Linked DNA regions of Homo sapiens: region 2 is linked to region 1. Evidence: fine-mapped expression QTL. Tissue or cell type: whole blood. Region 1 holds a variant in brackets; the other region holds the start of a gene. All regions are shown on one strand. Distances are from middle to middle.

Evidence for each region. PIP is the estimated chance that this variant, and not a neighbour inherited with it, causes the effect.
Region 2: it holds the start of PGD, and the variant in region 1 is fine-mapped to the expression of PGD in whole blood (TOPMed, PIP above 0.99).

The regions. Positions count from the first base shown.
Region 1 is chr1:10,423,739-10,431,155 of GRCh38, forward strand. It overlaps CENPS-CORT (CENPS-CORT readthrough), which reads left to right and starts at 6,695. Exons shown (of 4, transcript NM_199006.3): 1 at 6,695-6,830. The coding sequence starts at 6,780. It overlaps CENPS (centromere protein S), which reads left to right and starts at 6,695. Exons shown (of 5, transcript NM_199294.3): 1 at 6,695-6,830. The coding sequence starts at 6,780. RefSeq lists enhancers at 2,168-2,773, 2,774-3,379, 7,293-7,342 and silencers at 4,334-4,628, 6,793-7,042. The variant G/A (reference allele first, on the strand shown) is at 4,503.
Region 2 is chr1:10,397,021-10,403,422 of GRCh38, forward strand. It overlaps PGD (phosphogluconate dehydrogenase), which reads left to right and starts at 2,044. Exons shown (of 13, transcript NM_002631.4): 1 at 2,044-2,105; 2 at 2,609-2,684; 3 at 3,373-3,552; 4 at 6,051-6,116. The coding sequence starts at 2,098. RefSeq lists an enhancer at 1,432-1,741 and silencers at 2,222-2,541, 2,634-2,810.

The sequences.
Region 1 (7,417 bases):
CAGGCACGAGCCACCATGCCTGGCCAAGCAGAAGGATTGCCAAGCAAAGAGACTTTAGGGAAGGATTTGCAGGGGTTACACGTTCTTTGAGGCAGATGTGGAGCCCATCATTTTGGAAGGGGTGGGAGCCTTCAGCACGCTGTTCAGCATGCGGGCGAATGCGTCTGCTCACTCTGTTAAATCTTGTATGCTGTCACAGTTGCTGCGGACTGGTGTGTAACAAACCACCCCAAAGTCAGTGGTGTAAAATAATCACCATTTAAATTTTCTTCTAATTCTGTGGGTCATGAATCTGGAAAGAGCATGGTGGGGGACGGGGGAGGCAGAGGCAGCTTGTCTGCTCCACAATGTCTGGGGCCTCAGCTAGGAGGACTCGAGAGCAGGGGTGGCACCATGGCTCGGGGGCGTGGAGTGTCCTCTCTCATTCATCTCGCGGTGGATGCTGGCTGTTGGCTGGGACCTCAGCTAGGGCTATGAGCTGGAAAAAGTTCATGTGGCCTCATCACATGGCCTCAGGCCAGAGAAACATCTTGTTTGTTGGCCCAGGGTTCTCACTAAGGAGGCAGAAGCACACACGTGGCTTTTAAAAACCCAGCTGTGAATGTTACATGGCAGGATTATAGCCATCCAAAATCGGTTCCAAGCAAGCCGCAAGTCCCCCAGACTCAAGGGGCAGAGGATTAGACTCTACCTCTTGATGGGGGAGTATGAGGTTCTAGAAAAGCACATGGATCAGGAGACATTGTTCTTGCCATCTTCGTAAATTACAGTCTGCCACATATGCTGCCCCTGAAAAGGAAAATCTGTTACATAGCAGAGTTGGGAACCGGCACTATTTGGGGCTTTTCCTGAGGGTCTCATATAGTATATATACTACTAGCTAACATTGAGAGCATATGCCAGGCTCTGTAACTCATTGAATGCTCGCAGCACCCTCTGAAGTAAGCACTATTACTATCCCTAATTTAGAGATGAAGCACACTGATATTAAGTAATTCGTCCAAGGTCAGAGCTACTGAAGAACTGGAATTGAACCCCAGAGATCTGGTGCCAGAGTCCATACACTTAATCATGAAACTGACCTGTCGGCGTGCACAGTTCATCGCCCCACTCATTCAGTCATTCGGCATGTTTATGGTACACCTACCATGTGCCAAGCATTGTGCTAGGTACCCTCTGTCGGGGTGAGAGAAGTCCAAAGTCCTGACCTCATGTGCTTACAGGATACATATAATATTTAACGATAATTATTTTTAAATTTTTATCTTCTCTTGAATAAACCTATGAAATGGAGATTGATTTTTTTTTTTTTTTTTGAGATGTAGTCTCACTGTCACCCAGGCTGGAGTGCAATGGCATGATCTTGGCTCACTACGACCTCCGCCTCCTGGGCAAGCGATTCTCCTGCCTCAGCCTCCTTAGTAGCTGAGATTACAGGCGTGCACCACCATGCCTGGCTAATTTTTGTATTTTTAGTAGAGATGGGGTTTCACCATGTTGGCCAGGCTGGTCACAAACTCCTGACCTCGGGTGATCCACCCGCCTCGGCCTCCCAAAGTGCTGGGATTACAGGCATGAGCCACCACGCCCAGCCAAGATTGATTTTTGTATTGACATTTTACAGTGCAGTTTTTTTTTTTTTTTGAGACGGAGTTTTGTGGGGAAAAGAAAGATCAGATTGTTACTGTGTTTGTGTAGAAAGAAGTAGACATAAGAGACTCCATTTTGTTTTGTACTAAGAGAAATTCTTCTGCCTTGAGATGCTGTTAATCTGTAACCTTACCCCCAACCCTGTGCTCTCCGAAACATGTGCTGTGTCAACTCAGGGTTAAATGGATTAAGGGCTGTGCAAGATGTGCTTTGTTAAACAGACGCTTGAAGGCAGCATGCTCGTTAAGAGTCATCACCACTCCCTAATGTGTCCGGAATTGGTGGGTTCTTGGTCTCACTAGCTCCAAGAATGAAGCCGCGGACCCTCGCGGTGAGTGTTACAGCTCTTAAGGTGGCGCATCTGGAGTTTGTTCCTTCTGATGTTCGGATGTGTTCGGAGTTTCTTCCTTCTCGTGGGCTCGTGGTCTCACTGGCTCAGGAGTGAAGCTGCAGATCTTCGCGGTGAGTGTTACAGCTCATAAAAGCAGCGTGGACCCAAAGAGTGAGCAGTAACAAGATTTATTGCAAAGAACAAAACTGCCACAGCGTGGAAGGGAACCCAAGCGGGTTGCCACTGCTGGCTTGGGCAGCCTGCTTTTATTCTCTTATCTGGCCCCACCCACGTCCTGCTGATTGGTAGAGCCCAGTGGTCTGTTTTGACAGGGCGCTGACTGGTGCGTTTACAATCCCTGAGCTAGACACAAAGGTTCTCCAAGGCCCCACCAGAGTAGCTAGATACAGAGTGTCGATTGGTGCATTCACAAACCCTGGGCTAAACAAAGGGTGCTGATTGGTGTATTTACAAACCTTGAGCTAGATACAGAGTGCCGATTGGTGTATTTATAATCCCTGAGCTAGACATAAAGGTTCTCCTCCTCCCCACCAGACTCAGGAGCCCAGCTGGCTTCACCCAGTGGATCCTGCACCAGGCTGCAGGTGGAGCTGCCTGCCAGTCCTGCGCCATGCGCCCACACTCCCCAGCCCTTGGGTGGTCGATGGGACTGGGCGCCGTGGAGCAGGGGGCCACGCTCATCGGGGAGGCTCGGGCCACACAGGAGCCCACGGAGTGGGTGGGAGGCTCAGGCATGGCGGGCTGCAGGTCCCGAGCCCTGCCCCACAGGAAGGCAGCTAAGGCCCAGTGAGAAATCGAGTGCAGCGCCGGTGGGCTGGCACTGCTGGGGGACCCAGTACACCCTCCGCAGCCGCTGGCCTGGGTGCTAAGCCCCTCATTGCCCTGGGCGGGCAGGGCCAGCCGGCTGCTCCGAGTGCGGGGCCCGCCAAGCCCACGCCCACCCGGAACTCCAGCTGGCCCGCAAGCGCCGCGCGCAGCCCTGGTTCCCGCTTGCGCCTCTCCCTCCACACCTCCCTGCAAGCTGAGGGAGCCGGCTCTGGCCTTGGCCAGCCCAGAAAGGGGCTCCCACAGTGCAGCGGTGGGCTGAAGGGCTCCTCAAGTGCCACCAAAGTAGGAGCCCAGGCAGAGGAGGTGCCGAGAGCGAGCGAGGGCTTTAGGACTGCCAGCACGCTGTCACCTCTCACTAATCTCAAGTACCCAGGGACAGAAACACTGCGGAAGGCCGCAGGGACCTCTGCCTAGGAAAGCCAGGTATTGTCCAAGGTTTCTCCCCATGTGATAGTCTGAAATATGGCCTCGTGGGAGGGAAAGACCTGACCGTCCCCCAGCCCGACACCCGTAAAGGGTCTGTGCTGAGGAGGATTAGTAAAAGAGGAAGGAACGCCTCTTGCAGTTGAGACGAGAGGAAGGCATCTGTCTCCTGCCCGTCCCTGGGCAATGGAATGTCTCAGTATAAAACCCGATTGTATGTTCCATCTACTGAGATAGGGGAAAACCGCCTTAGGGCTGGAGGTGGGACAGGCGGGCAGCAATACTGCTCTTCAAGGCATTGAGATGTTTATGTGTACACATATCTAAAGCACAGCACTTAATTCTTTACCTTATCTATGGTGCAGAGACCTTTGTTCAAGTGTTTATCTGCTGACCTTCTCTCCACTATTATCCTATGATCCTGCCACATCCCCCTCTCCGAGAAACACCCAAGAATGATCAATAAATACTAAGGGAATTCAGGCCGGCGGGATCCTCCATATGCTGAACGCTGGTCCCCTGGGCCCCCTTATTTCTTTCTCTATACTTTGTCTCTGTGTCTTTTTCTTTTCCAAGTCTCTCGTTCCACCTAACGAGAAACACCCACAGGTGTGGAGGGGCAACCCACCCCTTCAAGTTTCGCTCTTGTTTGCCCAGGCTGGAGTGCAATGCACGATCTCAGCTCACCGCAAAACCTCCGCCTCCCAGGTTCAAGCGATTCTCCTGCCTCAGCCTCCCGAGTAGCTGGGATTACAGGCATGCACCACTACGCCTGGCTAATTTTGTATTTTTAGTAGAGACAGGGTTTCTCCATGTTGAGGCTGGTCTCGAACTCCTGACCTCAGGTGATCCGCCTGCCTCGGCCTCCCAAAGTGCTGGGATTATAGGCGTGAGCCACCACGCCCGGCTGAACTAAATATTTATGGAACCCTCCTTAATGCAGATGAAAAGGATTAAAGAAACCCACCAAGGTCTTTGTCTTATTTATGGTGAGGGCAGTGGATAAACCGGAAACTCGGAAACCAGCCTAATAATCAAATCTGGTCTCTATCACTTCCCAGTAGTTTAGCCTTGGGCAGAGTTCTTTCACCTGTTTCCTCATGTAAAATGGGGCTAACAGCACCTACTTTTGAGGGCAGATGAGATATTAAATGAGTGCCTAGAGCGAGGACAAGTGCAAAGTGCTCAGTGTCATGGCAACATTGCCAGCGGGCATCCCTGGCCTTGCTTCACGCTGTAGTGCAACACT[G/A]ACATCTAGTGGCCAGATTATAGGGCTACTTCTTCATCAAGTAAGTTTCAACCAAATATTAATATATCCTTTTTTCATTATTTTTTTTAGAGACAGTGTCTCCCTCTGTCACCCTGGCTGGAAAACAGTGGGGCAATCACGGCTCACCATAGCCTTGAACTGGGCTCAAGTGATCCTCCTGCCTTGGTCTCCCTAAGTGTTGGGATTACAGGCTTGAACCACCACACCCAGTTCCATTTTCTGTAATGAATACCTCAACCCTCGACCTATTTCTCAGACCTTTTTTTTTGAGACAGAGTCTCGCTCTGTTGCCCAGGCTGGAGTGCTATGGTGCGATCTCAGCTCACTGCAACCTTCACCTCCCGGGTTCAAGCAATCCTCCTGCCTTAGCCTCCCAAGTGCTAGGATTACAAGCATGTGCCACCATGTCTGGCTAATTTTTGTATTTTTTGGTAGAGACAGGGTTTCATCATGTTGGCCAGGCTGGTCTTGAACTCCTCACCTCAAGTGATCTACCTGCCTCGGCCTCCCAAAGTGCAGGAATTACAGGTATGAGCCACTGCTCCTAGCCTCTGAGGCTCTTAAGTGCCTCTGTATTGCACACATGTCACTGGAATACTGTTCTTTAATCCTGGGAAGCAACTGCTTTAAAATGAGGGAACACACAGGTACAAAGCACAGGAACTTCCTGGGACGAATTGTTACAATTTCTTTAGCTCTTATGTGAGGCAATTGTTTAAAACCTGACACCTGCCCTGTGAAGTTGGAACTACTGTCCCCAGTTGATAAATAAGGGACATGAAGCTTGGCCACGTCCTGTGACTTGCTTGGGGTCACCAGGCTCAAGGGAGGGAGCTGGGCTTTGCAGCCACAGTGTGCTCTAAATGGGGCTGCTCACCAACCAGCGACCGGCCTTCTCTCCTGCTGCAGGCTTGGTCTCACTCTGGATGGCCTGCCCTGCCCAGCCCCATGCTGCCCATTAGGGGAATCCGTCAGAGGCTTGCCCTGCTTGGGCAGGAGGACTGTCCAGGTAGACTGGGATGCCCACAGAGAGCAGTGGACAGAGGCGAGAAGTGCCTGTCATTTCCAGATGCCACCCACTGAGCAGATGCAGAGGAAAGTCCTCAGAAGGCTGATTCCTCCAAAAAGCTTTGATCTGGGTTTCAGCCCCTGGCAAGCTTAGGGAACTTGAGGGACGTCCCTGGGAAAGGAAGACAAGGAGTGGCTTTATGTGCTTTCCTTCGTTCTGAAAGTAGCACCTGCTTGTGACAAATGCAGAATACAGAAATATAGGCAATAAAAAATAATAAAACAAAAACCTAGAAATACAGGCAGGGCATGGTGGCTCACACCTGTAATTCCAGCACTTTGGGAGGCTGAGGTGGGATGATTGTTTGAAGCCAGGAGTTTGATACCAGCCTGGGCAACATAGTGAGACCTGGTCTCTACAAAAAATAAAAATTAGCCAGGTGCGCTGATGCAGGCTTGTGGTCCCAGCTACTTGGGAGGCTGAAGTGGGAGGATCACCTGAGCCCAGGAGGTGGAGGTTACAGTGAGTCTTGGTGGTGCCACTGCACTCCAGCCTGGGCGGCAGAGTGAGACCCTGCCTCTCAAAAAACTACAATAAAAACAAACCAAAATTGGGTTTGATGGTCTCACTTCATCGTTAACATAAAGGAAAAACAGTAACACTTGTGTCAGAACTATACTCCTGCCAATGGCAACAACGCAGTTCCTGTTCCACTCGCTGAATGAGGTCACGGGTCGTTCACTCATTGTAGTCTTTGTGACGCTATTGTTGGTGATAGAATGATAAAGTTGATGGTCGATTTTGCAAGATACACCTGAGGTACAGGTGCATGGAGCTCCTGATAATGTGTACTGCGTTACATGATCTGTAAATCGTGGGCTACGCATCCTCTACACCCGACTGGAACACGCTTTGCACCTATGCGCACACGTGTTTCGCGGAGAGTGGTGCTCAGCGTTGTGCCAGGCGCTGAATCAGGCTCTGGGGTGCAGCAGTGACCTCGGTGGTCATGTCCCCGCGTCGCCCGGCCACCTCCGCAGAGCAAGCTGAGCAGGGGGCTGGCTGGAGGCCGACGGCGGAATCCCCTCAACGGAGCGCCGCCAGGGGGCGCGCGAGGCAGGGCGGAGCTGCGTACTTTGTCCGCCCGCGCGGCCCGTCGCTCGCGCCGCGGCGGGAAAATCCGACCTGGCCGCGCACCACCGCCCCTTCTCGGCCCTCCTGCGTTTGCCCAGGGTCGGCCCGCAGTGATGGAGGAGGAGGCGGAGACCGAGGAGCAGCAGCGATTCTCTTACCAACAGGTACAGGAAAACGGGGGTCGGGCTGGGCTGGGGCAGGACGGCGTCGAGTTTCTGGACAGAAAAGTACCCGGCAGCCCCCGGCGGCTTCTCATCGGCACCCCGCCCCCGGGCGCCCCCCGCGGCTGCGCATGCGTTGGCTTAACTGCCGCGGGTGGTGCTGGGAGGCGGTTTCCGCGGCAACGCGGCTGGACCCTGGCCTGCGCTGGCTGGGGAGGAAGCGGTTCTAGGGGAGCGTGCGGGCGCCGGGGTCCGGCGGCGAGAGGCCACCTTCTGGCCTTGCGATGAATCCTCGGTTTCCCCTTCTCAGATGGGGTTTTCGTGAGGGTACAACGTCGGCATTAGACATTCCAGGTGACGCCCGTACGCGGTGGGCGGTTCGGGCCGGAGCTCTGGAACGCTGGCCCTGGAGGCGTCGACCCCTCGTTACTGATGCAGGGACGCGGTGCGGACCAGTCAGGCCCAGAGCTCGTCCTTAGATGTGGGTTCGAATCTCTGCCCCGCCAACTTGTGATCGTATCGACTCGGCCCAGACGCAATTTTCTTCTCTGCAAAATCGTCATAAGAATAATCACTTGTCAGGGTAGCTG
Region 2 (6,402 bases), 27 kb before region 1:
TCAACAGATAAATGGATAAGCAAATGATGACACAATTGCATTAATGGAATACCACTCAGCAATGAAAAGGAACAAACCACTCATACCTACAACACAGATGAGCCTCAGAAACGTGATGCTAAGTGAAAGAAGCCAGACCAAAAAAATTATATGCTATTATTCCATTTCTATGAAATTTCTGGAAAAGGCAAAAACCATGCAAAGTAGATCAGAGGTTGGCTGGGGGTGAGAGCAGAGACTGACTACAAATAGGCCCAAGGGAACGTTTTGGGGTGATGGAAGTTTTCTATAAGTGGATTATGGTGATGGCTACACAACAGTATAAATTAAAGGTCATCCAAATGTGTACTTACAATGTTTGAATTGTATGACATGTAAATTATCTCATTAAATCTGTATTTTAAAAAAAGAACTGTGCTGTGAAGTTTGACATATTTTAAAGTAGGATGTCTTAGCCGGGCATGGTGTTGCATGCCTGTAGTCCTAGCTACTCAGGAAGTTGAGGCTAGAAGATTGCTCGACCTCAGGAGTTCAAGGCTGCAGTAAGCTATGGTCATGCCACTGCACTCCAGCCTGGGCAACAGAGCAAAGACCTGGTCTTTATAAAAATTAAAAACCGGCCGGGCACAGTGGCTCACACCTCTAATCCCAGAACTTTGGGAGGCTGAGGTGGGTGGATCACTTGAGGTTAGGAGTTCGAGACCAGCCTGGCCAACATGGTGAAACCCTGTCTCTACTAAAAATAAAAACATTAGCTGGGCATGGTGGCACACACCTGTAGTCCCAGCTACTTGGGAGGCTGAGGCAGGAGAATCGCTTGAACCTGGGAGGTGGAGGTTGCAGTGAGCCCAGATCGCGCCACTGCCCTCCAGCCTGGAGACACAGCCAGACTCCATCTCAACAATGACATCAAAAAAAGGCCGGGCACGGTGGCTCACGCCGGTAATCTCAGCACTTTGGGAGGCCAAGGCGGGCGGATCACGAGGTCAGGAGTTTGAGACCAGCCTGGCCAAGATGGTGAAACCCCATCTCTACTAAAAATACAAAAATTAGCTGGGCGTGGTGGCGGGCGCCTGTAATCCCAGCTACTTGGGAGGCTGAGGCAGGAAAATTGCTTGAACCCGGGAGGCGGAAGGTGCAGTGAGCTGAGATCACACCACTGCATTCCAGCCCGGGCGACAGTGCGAGACTCCGTCTCAAAAAAAACAAAAAAAATCTAAAACTCAAACTTCTGAATAACAATTTCCTCCTAGCAAGAAGGGACTCAGTAAGATAAGAAGCGCTGCTTGGCTACTTTGCAAATGTCTGGCTTAAGATGGCTGGTTTTTTGTATCTGCCTCTGCATTTAACCTGGTCCATCTCGCGGGTCACATAGCCTCTACAAAATGAGAAGGGGTTCAATACCGTTAACTCCGGGCCTGGGTAAAAGACTCAAGTCCTGACCCCATCATACTCCAACCAATACATACCCCGCCTGCGCTGTCTGCGCCTGGGTCTCTTCAACCGCAGTGAGCGGTCGCACGGCTCCACATCAGGGTCGCCCTGAGGCTCAGCCTTCCCCGGCCCCATTCCGAGTGCGCACAGGACTGAACGAGCACGCCCGGTCCCTGCTCCGGAGCGGAGGACACGACGCGGACCCGCACGGTGCACCGCAGTGACCTGAGGAAGGAGCGACGGGCGCTCGCGCCAAAGGCGTCCGAGTGCCTGGTAAACTGTAAAGCGCGGTCCTGCGTGAGTTGCTATGGCTACAGCTGCGCCAGGCGGACGGCCTGCAGGACCGAGGTGCAGCTGGGACGAGCGGAAAGCTCTGCGCGTGGGCGGGGAGCCCGGAGCCTCGCCGGGGCAATGTCATCTAGGTGCTCGGCGCTCCACTGATCCGGCCCCCGGGGGTGGGCGGGCACGTTTGCCTCGGATGGTCTAACAGGCGTCGGGGAGAGCCAATGGTGTGGCTTCATGGCTCCACCCCCTTCCATTCGATTGGCCGGCGCCGAAAAGCCGGGCGTGAGCGGCCGCAGTTTCTGGAGGGAGCCGCTGCGGGTCTTTCCCTCACTCGTCCTCCGCGCGTCGCCGCTCTTCGGTTCTGCTCTGTCCGCCGCCATGGCCCAGTGAGTGACTCGCCAGGGGCAGCCCGGCTCGGCCTCAGCGGGCGGGGAACTCTTTGGGGGTCGAGATCTCCCTCGTTCTCTCCGACGCCTCCCACCCTGGGGGTCGCCTGAGCTCACTTGGGGCTCTGTGACCCTGGCCCTACGGCGTCTCGGGCCCAGAGCTCCTTCCCTGCGGGCCCGGCCCCCTGCCCTCTCGGCCGCGCAGGCATGGGGCGGGGCGGGTCCCTTCGAGGGCCAGGGAGGAGGCGCGGCCAGGCCTCGCCGAGTCTGCAGGGACACCTGCGGGACGCGTGCCAGCGGGAGCCGGGCGCGAGGGCGGGGCTGGGGGCCGCCTGCCCGGCCGAGGCTCTGCAGCGTGCGCGCCCGGCTTCTGGGGGCCCGCGGGAGGCGCGGAGGAAAGTGCAGACTCCCAGTCACGGCCAAATGTGGAAGGACCGGACCCCTGGGTTGCAGCGCGTCGAGCGGTGCTGACTCTTTCCTTTGTTCTGTTTCTGCCTCTCTAGAGCTGACATCGCGCTGATCGGATTGGCCGTCATGGGCCAGAACTTAATTCTGAACATGAATGACCACGGCTTTGTGGTAAGCGGCGTGGGCGCGTTGTCTTCTCTCTGGTTCCCGGGCGCTTTAGCCGAGGCCGGCGATAGGTTTGGGAGCTTACGGGTCTCCTGGCCGTGCTTTGCTAATGTGCTCTGTTGCTGCTCGTGGCATTTTTGTATGGAAAGGAGAAGCACCCTGTAGGCGTGGGCGGGCCGATCCCGAACTTAGTCCTGCGGAGTGTGCCTGTGGGTCCGTGAGGTTCACAGCCCGAATGAACGAATTAGTGTCTTAAGTAGAGAAGAAGGGTGCGGGAGGAGAACCCTTGCTGGCTGTGTAGAGCTCTAACTTGATTGCCTGATGAGATCTGGGGAGAGTGAAAATGTTTCTTCTAAATGTTAAAGTGGCTTAGACGCCAGGATGATCAATAACAACAGATAGAGCCTGTTGAACCGGCCAGTTCCTGGATTTGATTTTGAGTCCTAACACGTTGGGTGTGGATTCTACCTGACACACCGGGGGTAGTTGGCCTTCGCCTCGGTTGTCCGCCGTTTTCATCCTACTGAGGTGACATAACTTTACAGTGAGCCTCCCACAGCTGGGGGAAGAAAAGGCAAAGGCAGGTCTGACCTCCCCAGAACTTGGGTTGAATGGAAAGGTCATTGTTACTTTGGCCACAGTCTGAAAGTCTTGTGTGTCCTGGATCTCCTACTCAGGACTTTTGTCCTTCTAGGTCTGTGCTTTTAATAGGACTGTCTCCAAAGTTGATGATTTCTTGGCCAATGAGGCAAAGGGAACCAAAGTGGTGGGTGCCCAGTCCCTGAAAGAGATGGTCTCCAAGCTGAAGAAGCCCCGGCGGATCATCCTCCTGGTGAAGGCTGGGCAAGCTGTGGATGATTTCATCGAGAAATTGGTGAGGCCAGCTGTGCTCTCAGCTGCTACCACGATAGCAGCTGTTTTTGGTTTCTTCCTTTAGTTCTCCTTCTTTTAACTCTAGAGATTTTTTTTTTTCAATTTCTGCTAAGCTCTGACCAAATGATTGCTTAACTGTTGCAGTGTTGGTTAACTTGATAAGCGCTTATGAAGTAACTTTGTCCTTTGGTGGTAGTAATTCTGAGAATACTAACAGACATTTCAATAAACATTAAGGCGGGGCACAGTGGCTCAGGCCTGTAATCCCAGCACTTTTTGGGAGGCTGGTTCAGATGGATCGTTTGAGCCCAGGAGTTCGAGACCAGCCTGGGCAACATGGCGAAACCCTGTCTCTACATAAAATTAAAAAATTAGCTGGGTATGGTGGTGTAAGCTTATGGTCCCAGCTACAAGCTTATGGTCCCAGGTTCGAGACCAGCCTGGCCAACATGGTGAAACCCCGTCTCTACTAAAAATATAAAAATTAGCTGGGCTTTGTGGCTCATGCCTGTAATCCCAGTTACTCGGGAGGCTGAGGAATGAGAATCACTTGAACCTGGGAGGTGGAGGTTACAGTGACCTGAGATTGTGCCACTCCAGTTTGGCGACAGAGCGAGACTCCGTCTCAAAAAAAAAATGAAAATAAAATCAAGATCTCCTTAGGGAATCCTAGGGAACTGGATGCTTATTTTTGTACCAAACAATTTGTTGGCTTTAGCAGGTATATCTTTTTTGGAAGAAAAAAGTAGGGGAACCAGTGGAAATAATGTGTTTAGATACCCAAAATAATTCTATAGTAACAACTCTGAAAAAACCCAGGCACTCCCATTTAGAAGAAATGTTTTGCTGTAAGCAGTGCAGTGATAGCTCAGGGGAGGCTGAGCATTCCTTTCTAGAGGAGTCGTGTCAACAGTGGGGTTGTTTCCACAGGGAGAAGGATTTGTAACCAGTATGCCACTGTTTTTCAATCAAATGACCTAGAAAGGAAGAACACTGAGTTTAAAAAAAGGACATACTAAATTTTTTGTGTGGCAAGCTGCCTGTAATCAGTTTCAGACAGAGAAAACTGAAAAATGGTGGATTATTCTTCAGTATAGGAAAATACTAAGTAATGTTAACTGGAGCCTTGTAGGGGGAAGATTGAATAATATAATGAAGCCCAGGCTGGGCGCGGTGGCTCACGCCTGTAATCCCAGCACTTTGGGAGGCAGAGGTGGGTGGATCATGAGGTCAGGAGATCGAGACCATCCTAGCTAACACGGTGAAACCCCATCTCTACTAAAAATACAAAAAATTAGCCAGGCGTGGTGGTGGGTGCCTGTAGTCCCAGCTACTTGGGAGGCTGAGGCAGGAGAGTGGCGTGAACCCGGGAGGCAGAGCTTGCAGTGAGCCGAGATCACACCACTGCATTGCAGCCTGGGTGACAGTGCGAGACTCCGTCTCAAATAAATAAATAAATTAATTAATTAATTAATAAAGTAATAATAATAATAAAGCCCAGCCTGGTTGGTGTGCTGTAGGTAGATATTCATGTTCAAGGCTCTGTCTCTTCCTGACCTCCGAACTGTTGTCATAAAATCATTCATTCATACACTAAACCATTTGATATGTATTTACTGAATCCCCACTCTCTTCTAGACACATTATAGTCAGTGTTTAATCTGTATACTTACTTAAAAATAGAAATGGGGTCTTGCTATGCTGTCCATGCTGGTCTCAAATTCCTGGGCTCAAGCGATCCTCCTGCCTCAACCTCCCAAAGTGTTGGGATTACAGGTGTGAGCCACTGAGCCTGGTCAGCCCTAAACTTTTAAATAGTGTGCAGCTCTGGCCACAGAGAGGATTATTGAAGATTAAGTAGGCTGGGTGCGTTGGCCTCCTGCCAAGCCAGGAGGCTTTTAGCCCAGGAGTTTGAGACCAGCCTGGGCGACATGGTGAGACTCCATCTCAAAAAAAATTTTTTTTTTTTGAGACGGGGTCTCACTCTGTCCCCCAGGCTGGAGTGCAGTGTTGCGATCTCAGCTCACTGCAAGCTCCACCTCCCGGGTTCACGCCATTCTCCTGCCTCAGCCTCCCGAGTAGCTGGGACTACAAGGCGCCTGCCACAACGCCCGGCTAATTTTTCGTATTTTTAGTAGAGACGAGGTTTCACCATGTTAGCCAGGATGGTCTTGATCTCCTGACCTTATGATCCACCCACCTCGGCCTCCCAAAGTGCTGGGATAACAGGCGTGAGCCACCGCGCCTGGCCTACAAAAAAAATTTTAAAACTAGCTGGGCATTGTGGTTCAAGGAGTTCAAAGTTGCAGTGAGTCATGTTCACACCACTGCAGGAGTTCAGGGTTTCAGTGAGCCATGTTCGCACTCCTGCATTCCAAGCTGGGCAACAGAACGAGACTCTTTTTAGACTATGTTTATTTGGAATAAATTCTTGTTTGTTTTAATTTGCCAAGGTATGTTTCATTTTTGGTCCATCTTAATGCTGGTGTCTGGTTACAGGTACCATTGTTGGATACTGGTGACATCATCATTGACGGAGGAAATTCTGAATATAGGGACACCACAGTAAGTGTTCTTCAGTCCAGATTCTTCCAGGTTCCGAGAACATTCTAGAAAAAAGTGTCAGCATCGCATATGTGACAGTAGGGTGAACTGCCCTGTGGTACTGATTTTTTTGAGATTACTACTGATACAATAGTTCTCAGCCTTTTTTTCTGTTAAGACACACTTAACAGAAGGGCCGGGTGTGGTGGCTCACACCTGTAATCCCAGCACTTTGGGAGACGGAGGCAGGTGGACCAAGAGGTCAAGAGATCAAGACCATCCTGGCTAACATGGCGAAAACCCGTCT